Linked DNA regions of Homo sapiens. The protein of the gene in region 2 purifies or fractionates together with the protein of the main gene of each other region. This does not show direct contact. Each region holds a gene or a part of one and is shown on either strand. Other genes may lie near its edges.

Region 1 (5,122 bases), on a different chromosome or scaffold from region 2:
CAGAGACCACAGGAAACTCACAAGCAGCCAGGTGCCCTGTGACCTGAGCGCATGGGTTCTCAGAGTATGGCATCTGAACCAGCGGCATCAACATCAGCTGGGAACTGATTAAGAGTGAAGAAGCCCCTGCCCCCCACAGATCTGCTGAATCAGAAACGCCAGCACGGGCTTTAGGAAGACCTGCAAGTGACCAGCCCACACTCATCTGAGAATCACCTCTCAGTCTCTCTGCCTGTATGGATAGACTTCAGCTGCAGGTCCCTCACACTGGGATCTCCACCATGAGGAGTGGGGAGGAGCCGATCTTGGCTCAAGTCATTCATTCCCAGCCTCCCACCTCCAGCGCTAAGAGCTGCCCCTGCCAACTACCAACACCACACAACTCTGAAAAATCATCAGGGTACCACCCTGGGGCCAGGCTGTGGGACTATGTTGGGGGAGATGGCCCAGGTCCAATGAGACCCCAAGAGAAGCTTTGCTCGTCCTGTGTCCCAGCTCTCTGGCTATTTCAGAGCAACCATCAGTCCTTTTGGAGAGTCCCCAATGGGAAGGAGACAGTTGGGTGATTAAGTTGTGTTTGGGGGATGTCCAGAAGCCTCAGGCCTGATAACCCACAGGGTCCCAGAAATGCCAGGGCAGGCAGGGGCCTCAAAGCACAGGCCCAAGAGGGCTCCAAGAGTTTGCTGTTCACTGTGATCGGTCACTGAGGACCTGTCATACTGCTGGAACTACTTCCTCGCCTCTTAAAAATAAACTAGGAGGAGCCTCTCTGAGGTCATTAGTTATGGTGACTTCAGAAACAAATGACGACAAGGGCTATGATGACAAAACAATGGAATGTGTCACCTGTGCCCCTTTTTGCACGAGTGCATACACTCGCTTTGCTTCCTTCCCCTTCAAGGAAAACATCCTGCCCTGGTGGAGGGTGCAGAGCCCAGGGCCCACCTTTGCAGTGTCGGTGGAGCACGTCCAGGGCCGCGATGAGGAACTCGTGGGCGTCCTGCTGCTCGTAGCCTGCTAGGTGCCTCGCGTGGGTCCACACCAGGTGCAGCAACTTATACGGGATGTGAGGGGACCGGTGTCCAGAGTAAAACTGCCAGAGGGCGGGGAAGGAAACCTTGTCAGGAATAAATGTAGACTCTGAACACAGAGTACACACAATCAAAACCTTTATCAGATGCCTACCATTGGCTGTGGCTCATTTGACACAAATGTTTGGATTTTACTTTTCTACTTTTTGCAAAGTCTATTTTTATCTGGGCTCACTGGACTTTTCGAGTCCTCATATGAATTTTTTCCTTTCTACCATCTAGTTTTCCACATATAAGCCTAAAAAATGAATTATGACTTGCTACTATGAGATCACATGCAAATAAAAGTGACTCGATTTGCCCAATACTAGTTTCCTCAAAGCACTAGCCAAACCACTCAGGCCCATGGACACCAGCACCTCCGCAAAGGGAAGCACATCACTGTGATTATGCAGAATTCACCAGCATCAGCCACAGGATTCTCTGCCTCTGAGGCTAATGGCAATTAGCTGAGGGCTTGCCAGCCAGTCCTCTCCAACAGCTCAACTCCAGCCGCAGACCCAGCAGCACACCTTCCATCCCACGGCTTCCTCCCCAGGTCAGAACCCACAGAGGGGTCTTGCCTGTGCAAATACAGAATTCAGGGCAGTTTTATTTCTCATCAAAAAACCCAAAACCACAGACCACCCAAATGTGTCTGAACTGGGAAACAGACAACTAAACCATAACCCATCTACATAATGGAACCCAACTCAGACATCGAAAGCACACATCATGGATGCACGCAAGACACGGGTGAATCCACCCAGTATTACATTAAGTAGGGACAGCCAGATTCAGAAAGGCTACTTCCTGCATGCATCCATCCGTATGATGCGCTGGTAAAGGACACTCAAGGGACCGAAGACAGATCGGCAGCTACCAGGGTCTGGGGACTGGGGGTTGACTTCGGAGGGGCACGAGGGAGTTCGGAGAGGTAACAGTTCTTCATCTTGAGTAGCAGCAGTTACACAACTATGCATTCGTCGAAACTCATCTATCTATAGGCTAGAAGGTGGGTGTGACTGTAATTTACACCTTAACAAGCCGGAGTCTAAAAACAATCTAACACAAGTGAGCTTATCACTAAAGTCAGTGATACAACCACCCACCAACTTCCCAGCTGCACCCTCCTTTCTCCTATTTGGGCCGTGTCCCCAGCAGTTATGGCACATTGCAGGTACTTTGAGGAAATCGGTTAGGCTCGACCAGAGGCTGGCAATCTGTTTTTGAAAGGCTTGGACAGTAAATAATTTCAGCTTTGCAGGTTGGATAGCCTCTGTCCAACTGCTCAACTCTGTGGCTGTCCCACAAAAGCGACCAGTGACCAGACAGACATGAGTGAGCTGGCGTGGCTGCATCTCTCGCAGAGGTTACGAATGGGAACAGGCCAGGGCTGTTGGCTGGCTCCTGTGCAAGGCACCTGAAGAACAGGCACCAGCCTGCTTATTAGTTGAGGTAACTGAGCTGCTTCAGCTCTGAGAAGCATGTCTAGGTCACGGAGCCGGTGAGGGCTGAGGCGGCAGCCGTGAACGCCTTGCTCTGAACGCTGCCATGCTCTGATGCCGGGGACAGAAGTGGACAGGAACGCCACACGTGCAGCCCACAGGAACAGCCAACGTGCAGCGCGTAGCTCATGAGGACAGAGGCTCTGATGGGGCATGCTTAGAGAGACCTGGCGGTGGAGGAGACTCGCATACCAGGAGGACACAGGAGGGTGACACATGCGTGCCTTTCTGAGCCAGGAAGGTAGACCATGGAGGAAGAGGAAGGGGGAGAATCACCCGTCTTTAGAGACAAATGTCACCCACCAGGGAAGTCTCTGCCACAAGCCTCTCAAAGGGCTTCTCCTTGTTCTGAGTCAGCAGTGCGTCCCCAAAAATCACGCCAGGTCTTCCCTTTTTGGAAAACTGTGTTTTCCATAATAGACATGTATATTAAACATTAACTTACTACAAAAGGTTCTAAATGTATCTTCCTTTATCATGGTCCACCTTAAATTTTTTTTTTGAAGGTGAAAACAAAGTAACAGAAATGTTCCCCTGCAGAAGTCAATGGCGCTCACCTCCTGAAACAGTGAGGACATCTCACAGACCAGACAGGAGCTGGGGCTCTGCATCTCACAGCGGTGCCTGTCAGACAGGAAGAAGTCCCGCAGAAGTGGCGTGTGGGTCAGGGCCTGCACGATGCAGTTCATGAAGCATGTGTTCCCAAGGTTGATCAGCCCACGCAGACCTGGACACAAATCACCAGAGAGCAGGAGTTACCTGTGTGCTGAACCACAGGTGTCGCTGGATCCCAGCGGCTTCCTCTACCTCTACATACTCATTTTCTTTTATTCATTCATTCAAGCCAGAACACGATGAGATATCGCATTCTGCTAGTTTTTATGCCACTTTTACATGAACGGTATTGAAGAATGTCCACCACCATGGACCCCTCCCACTTCAGCCATTGTATGCTTTGACAGAATTACACAAATATAGTTTCTACGACAACAGGCCAGGTCAGAGTGAAGCCTAATGAACAAACAAAACAGGTTTTTAAAAATGTTCTAGGGCCAGGGCAGGGGCTCATACTTGTAACCCAGCACTCTGGGAAGCCAAGGCATGAGGATCACTGGAGCCCAGGAGTTCGAGACCAGCCTGGGCAACATGGTGAGATGTCTCTACGCAAAACACAAAAATTATCCAAACATGGTGGTGTGCACCTGCAATCCCAGCTACTTGGGAGGCTGAGGTGGAAGGATCGCTTGGGCCCAGGAGACAGAGGGTGCAGTGAACTGTGCTCCAGCCTGGGCAACAGAGCAAGACTCTGTCTCAAAAAAGAAAAAGAAAAAGTTTTAAAGGGTATTCCCTCAATTTGTAGAAAATTCAGCGAACACTTACACTCACACACATCATTTCTCTCCCTGAAGATTACTGTGCCCAGCCTCACCCTGGCCAAAATCAACTTGAGTCCCTTTACCCACACAGACGCTGAAGGCTGTGAGGGCAGGGCTGTTGCTACGCATCACTCTGCGCCCCAAGCCCACTGCAGGTCCCTGCAGAGAACAGGTGCTCAAGAGCTGGTTGCTGAGCACATTGATGAGTGACAGTTATGCAGGGCTTCAACAGAATCATGTGGACTTAAGAAACCCACAATTCTGTATTTACTTTTAAACCCTGGAAAGAAGCCTAGCTGAGAGTGACGACACGCTCCACCCACCTATGGTGCAGTTCGAGGTGATCTTTCTCCTTTTCGGGTTGTGCTTCAGCAGTTCAAGCTCCCGTTTGGTTGGTTCCCAAGTTGAAAACTTCTCTCCAACGCCTAAGCAGATGAAGGACAGTTCCAAGCGCTATTAGCTAGATTTTCACATCAAGTGTGTTTACACATAAAAGCTGTGGCGCTATGCTGTCTGTCAGGGTGCATTTCAGTGAGCAACATCCACAGCACCAGGGCTTTCTCAAACTCTACTGTGCTGAGAGGGGCTACACACAACACTTAAAGGAGCTTCTCACAGAGGGTATGAGGATGTGAGCTACGTTTCCTGCAAGAAAAGCAGCACCTCCAGTCAAAACTACCCCAACGCCAATGCCAAAACAGTTGTTTTTCAAATGTCTTCCATCCTTCAGCACAGAGATGGCAGCATCAGCACCAATGGGAACTTACATGAAGGATTCTCCCGCAAACAAGTGAAATTGAAGGAGAGAGCTTGCACTTTTCAGCAAACTGAAATAGCATAAACTCAGCGTCGAGTTACCAAACTAAGATAGATCCAACAGTTAAAAACGTGTGTGCCACAAAATATTCAGAGAGTGGTGGTAAATGCTAATTGGCATAGTATTCCATTCAACGCACACCCTATGCGCTCAGAAGTACTTGTTCCATGCCAACCAACATTTCTGAATACTTCAAAATACTTTAAAAGACACAGCATGTTGGATAGACAGAATTATAAAATGATTCTAGAAGAATTCCATTTTAATCCTGGACATACATTTCTTAGGCCCGTGCTTTAAGTGCTCTGCACAGAATAATACACCCACACTTAGTCACAATGTTATTAAATT
Region 2 (5,122 bases):
GAGTAAAGGGAACTGTAGTCAGGCTTTCGGAGGGCAGGAGAGCATGTTTGTTTGAAGTAAGTAATCAGTTGCAAGGTGAACGGTTTACAGCTGCTGAACAATTGTGTGGAGTCTCGCAGAAGATTATGTTTATCCGGGCAGTTTTGCTTACAGAAAGGTCCCCTTAAACCTCCTTAAGGGCCTGTGTGGGCCCTGGCAGAAGAGGCCGGGGTTCCTGCAGCAGCTCACCAAAATGCTGGCCTTTGAAAAACTTGCTCTTTGTGCATTAGAAAAAGGGCTGGAATCTTTTTTTTTTTTTTTTTTCCCATTTACTGATTAAACAACAACAGAAGGTTGTTAAAGAGGACGAGCTTCTGGTGAAGTCACGTGTCTGCCAAGGGAATCTGTACCCGGGTGTGTATCGAAACAGAATGGCCTTCTCTAAAGATTAACTTAAGTGGCTTGCCCTCATCGAGCCCCTTCCTATGTATGGATTAAAAATAATTTTCGATACCAGTGGAGGAATGCTGTTGTCCTTGGTCTGCTGGTGGCCAGCTTCCTAAACGGCATTTTTTATTTGCTTCTCTCTGGTAGGCCTTCGCTGTTGGTGAGGAAACATTGAACTTTGTCCAGGGCATTTGAGCTAAGCTGTTTGAATAACCAAGAGGGCCAATTTCCCCACTGCAGATTGGAAGCAAGGGCAGTTTTTTCTTAGAACTTCCAAATGGAGCGTGTTCTTCTTAGGTATCGTACAAAGGAAATGCCTGGGTTACACCTTCCACATGAGTTGACTTACATGGTATGAGAAGGAAGAAATTGTGGCTGGAATCCACTCCTAAATGGTGTCTTCTTACAGTTCATCATGGAAAAACAAGATAATTACAAATTAATCATAGATGTTGGTCATGCCTTTACAGAGGGGGTTTAGAAGCAAATTGAGAATTCCCATAAGAGGGTCTGTCTCTGTGTTCTTAAGACTATATCCATGCGGCCCATTCAGTAAGTTGTATCTGTTGGTTGGATTTTAAAATAGATGATTTAATCAGTGCATTTAATATCCTAATATGGCATCAAAACTTGAACATTGATATGGCCTGAAATCTGTTGAAAATGATCATATTGAGTAAAGAAAGTCTCTACCCACCGGTATTAATAACAGGGTGATCTGTTTAGAAATTACATTTTCTCTGATACATCAATGAGTTTTGCAAAGGAGAGAAAATTGATGGTACCTGTAGTCAAGTCCAGTTCCAATACTGCCACAGAATTTTTCTTAAAAGTTCTATTGTAAATAATAGGCCACAGAATATTCCTTCACTTTCTGGGATGCAAAATGGATTCGTAAATGCTGTACCACAGGAGTGAGTATTTACAAAAAATATGCCAACTGGCCCACTTACAAAGCTATTTATAGAAGTCCTACTTTTCAAACTATTTTTTTTTTAACCTGTAAAGGGAAAGTTAATTCTTGTTGGTTTTATGAGTAGTGAACAGTGGCTATTAGAAATCAGGTAGAAGTAAAAACAGCAGTTTTCCAACTTCTTCTTCTTTTTCTTGAGACCAAGTTTCGCTTTTGTTTCCCAGGCTGGAGTGCAATGGCGTGATCTCAGCTCACCACAACCTCTGCCTCCCGGGTTCAAGCGATTCTCCTGCCTCAGCCTCCCGAGTAGCTGGGATTACAGGCATGTGCCACCATGCCTGGCTCATTTTGTATTTTTAGTGAGATGGGGTTTCTCCATGTTGGTCAGGCTGGTCTCAAACTCCTGACCTCAGGTGATAGTCCACCTTGGCATCCCAAATTGCTGGGATTACAGGGGTGAGCCCCTGCCCCCGGCCTCCAATTCCTTGATCATAGAATCTCTTTCAAAAAAAATGAGGACCCCAGACAGTTTTTGTTTTTGTGGATTATAACAGTCAATAAGTCATCCTGTTAGACATTAAAACAGAAATTTAAAACATATTTAACAATCTATTTAAAAGTAATGGTAACAGGCCAATTACATGTTACATACAAAAATGTATGTAATATATTTATTGTTTTTATATTTTATTTTTATTAAATATATATATTTTTAGAATAATTTATACTTTTCTATAAATATAAAATACAAATAAGTTATATTTATATAATTTAGATGTAAATAAAAACAATTGATATTTTTATATAAATATATAAATGTGTACACTTATGGGGCACAGTGTGATGCTTTGCTGTATGTTTGCATTGTGGAATAATTAAACTAATATCTATCACCCGCTATTTTTCCTTTGCGGTGGGAACATTTAAAATCTCTTTTAGCTATTTTTGTTTTTTATTTCCATAGGTTATTGGGGAACAGGTGGTGTTTGATTCCATGAGTAAGTTTTTTAGTGGTGATTTGTGAGATTCTGGTGCACCCATCACCCAAGCAGTATACACTGCACGCAAGACATTTAAAATCTCTATTGGCGGGCCGGGTGCGGTGGCTCATGCCTATAATCCCAGCACTTTGGGAGGCTGAGGCGGGTGGATTGCCTGAGCTCAGGAGTTTGAGACCAGTCTGGGCAATACAGTGGAACCCCATCTCTACTAAAATACAAAAAATTAGCTGGGTGTGGCAGTGTGCGCCTGTAGTCCCAGCTACTTGGGAGGCTGAGGCAGGAGAATGGTGTGAACCTGGGAGGTGGAGGTTGCAGTCAGCCAAGATTGCGCCACTGCACTCAAGCCTGGGCAACAGGGCGAGACTCCGTCTCAAAAAAACCAAAAAAACAAAAAAACAAAAACAAAAATAAAAACCTCTTTTAGCTATTTTGAAATATGTAATACACTATTAACTATCGCCACCACGCTGTGCAGTAGGTCACTGAAACGGATTCCTCCTGTCGAACAGAAACTTGGTACCCTTTGGCCATGTGCTGTATGTTTTTTAAAAGAAAAATGATTGTCATTTCCAAAATAACAAAAACCTAGGGAGAAGAGTGGCTGAGTTTTAGGGTTTTGTCAGTCTCATCCATAAAGGGACGGATGGCGGCTGGCTCCTTCCTCTGCTTCTTCACACTGGTCTCTTGCGACGTGTCGTTCTGGTAAGAGTCATGTGAGGCACATCCACTGGCCTCTCATGGATGTGCAATTGGAAACGTGAAATCGCCGGCCCCCTGAGAGCGTTTTGGGGAGTGTCCCCCCCAAACCCCCCTCCCCCCGCACTGGGGATGCTGCACCAGTCTTGAAGAATGAGGCAGTGAGAGGCTGGTTTACAGCAACCTTTATTCGTGGCCTTGTGTGCTCGGAAGCGCTGCAAGGGAGGAGGAAGGAGGAAGGAGGGTACTCACTGCAGAAGGTCAGCTCTGCTGTGGCTGTTACGTGGGTTCAGGTGGAACCCACCTACTGTGTGGACGGTTCTTTACCTGGGAATCCCATGGAATTCTGACAGCAGGAGACGTGGGAGGGAGCTTCTTGTTTCTCCTTCCAGGAGTCACTTGGTTAGGGGTTTGGGAATTTTGGCTCTTAGTACAAAACTTCACTCCAGGTACTAGACCTGTTTCAGCCAAATGATGATCATCATAATAGAATAGAAACCTTTGTTCACCTAAATAATAACAATAATATTAATAATAATAGAATATAAACCTTTGTTCATGGTACTGGGGCGTCTTTCAGCCCAATAATAATAACAACAATAGGAATAATGATAATAATGATAAAATATAAACCTTTGCTTCACGTCCTGGAACGTCTTTCAGCCAAATAATAATAATAATATTAATGATAATAGAATATAAACCTTTGTTCAGGGTACTGTGACTTCTTTCAGCCCAGTAATAATAATAATAATAGTAATAATGATAATAATGATAGAATATAAACCTTTGCTTCATCTCCTGGAACGTCTTTCAGCCAAATAATAACAATAATAATAATAATGACAATAGAATATAAACCTTTGTTCAGGGTACTGTGACCTCTTTCAGCCCAGTAATAATAATAACAGTAGTAATAATGATAATAATGATAGAATATAAACCTTTGCTCCAGGTCCTGGGAGCTCTTTCAGCCAAATAAGAATAATAATAGAATATAAACCTTTGTTCACAGTACCAGGACCTCTTTCAGACCAACAATAATGACAGTAATAATAATTATAATGATAATAGAATATAAACTTTTCTTCTAGGTACTGGGACCTCTTTCAACCAAATAATAATAGTGGAATATAAAACTTGGCTCTAGGTACCAGAACCTTTTTTCAGCCAAATAGTAATAATAAGAATAGTATTAATAGAAAACAGACCTTTGGTCCAGGTACTGGGACACCTGTGAGCCAAATAATAATAATAATGATAATAATAGAACATAAACCTTTGACTGAAGTGCCAGAACCTTTTTCAGCTAAATAATAATAATAAAATATAAACTTTTGTTCCAGGTACCCGGACTTCTTTCAGCCTAATAATAATCATAGAATATAAACCTTTACTACAGGTCCTGGCACCTTTCTCAGCCAAATAGTAATAAAATAGAATATAAACTTTTGTTCTGTTACTGGGACCTCTTTCAGCCTAATAACAAAAGTAATAATAATAGAATAAAAACCTTTGCTCCAGGTTCTAGAACCTCTTTCAGCCTAATAATAATAATAATGATAGAATGAAAATTTTTGTTCCAGGTGTCGAGACCTCTTCCAGCCTAATAATAATAATAATGTAATAATATAAGCCTTTGCTACAGGTACCAGGACCTGTTTCAGCCAAATAATAATAACAGCAATGATAATAGAATATAAACCTTGGCCCCAGGCACTGGGACTTCTTTCAGTCAAACAATCACAATAATAATAATAATAATAGAATATGGATGTTTGCTCCAGCTTTCAGGACCTCTTTCAGACAGATAATAATAACCGAGTACAAACTTTTCTTCCAGGTATCGGGACCTCTTCCAGCCTAAAAACAATAGTAATAATAGCATATATATCTTTTTTTTTGTTTTCTTCTTTCTTTGAGACGGAGTTTTGCGCTTGTTGCCCAGGCTACAGTGCAATGGCGCCATCTCGGCTCACTGCAACCTCTGCTTCCCGGGTTCAAACGATTCTCGTGCCTCAGCCTCCCGAGTAGCTGGGACTACAGGCATGTGCCACTACCACGCCCGGCTAATTTTGTATTTTTA

Evidence for each region. Proteins that work in one complex are often made in the same cells at the same time.
Region 1: the proteins of ZBED1 (region 2) and USP22 purify together in Homo sapiens (affinity purification with mass spectrometry; 2 studies listed by BioGRID and IntAct, with this or other methods). This does not show direct contact.

The regions. Positions count from the first base shown.
Region 1 is NC_000017.11:21,014,807-21,019,928, forward strand, and holds part of USP22 (ubiquitin carboxyl-terminal hydrolase 22), read right to left. Parts: intron 4,380-5,122; coding exon 4,278-4,379; intron 3,306-4,277; coding exon 3,136-3,305; intron 1,094-3,135; coding exon 946-1,093; intron 1-945. UniProt on the Homo sapiens protein: Deubiquitinase that plays a role in several cellular processes including transcriptional regulation, cell cycle progression or innate immunity.
Region 2 is NC_000023.11:2,493,807-2,498,928, reverse strand, and holds part of ZBED1 (E3 SUMO-protein ligase ZBED1), read left to right. Parts: intron 1-5,122.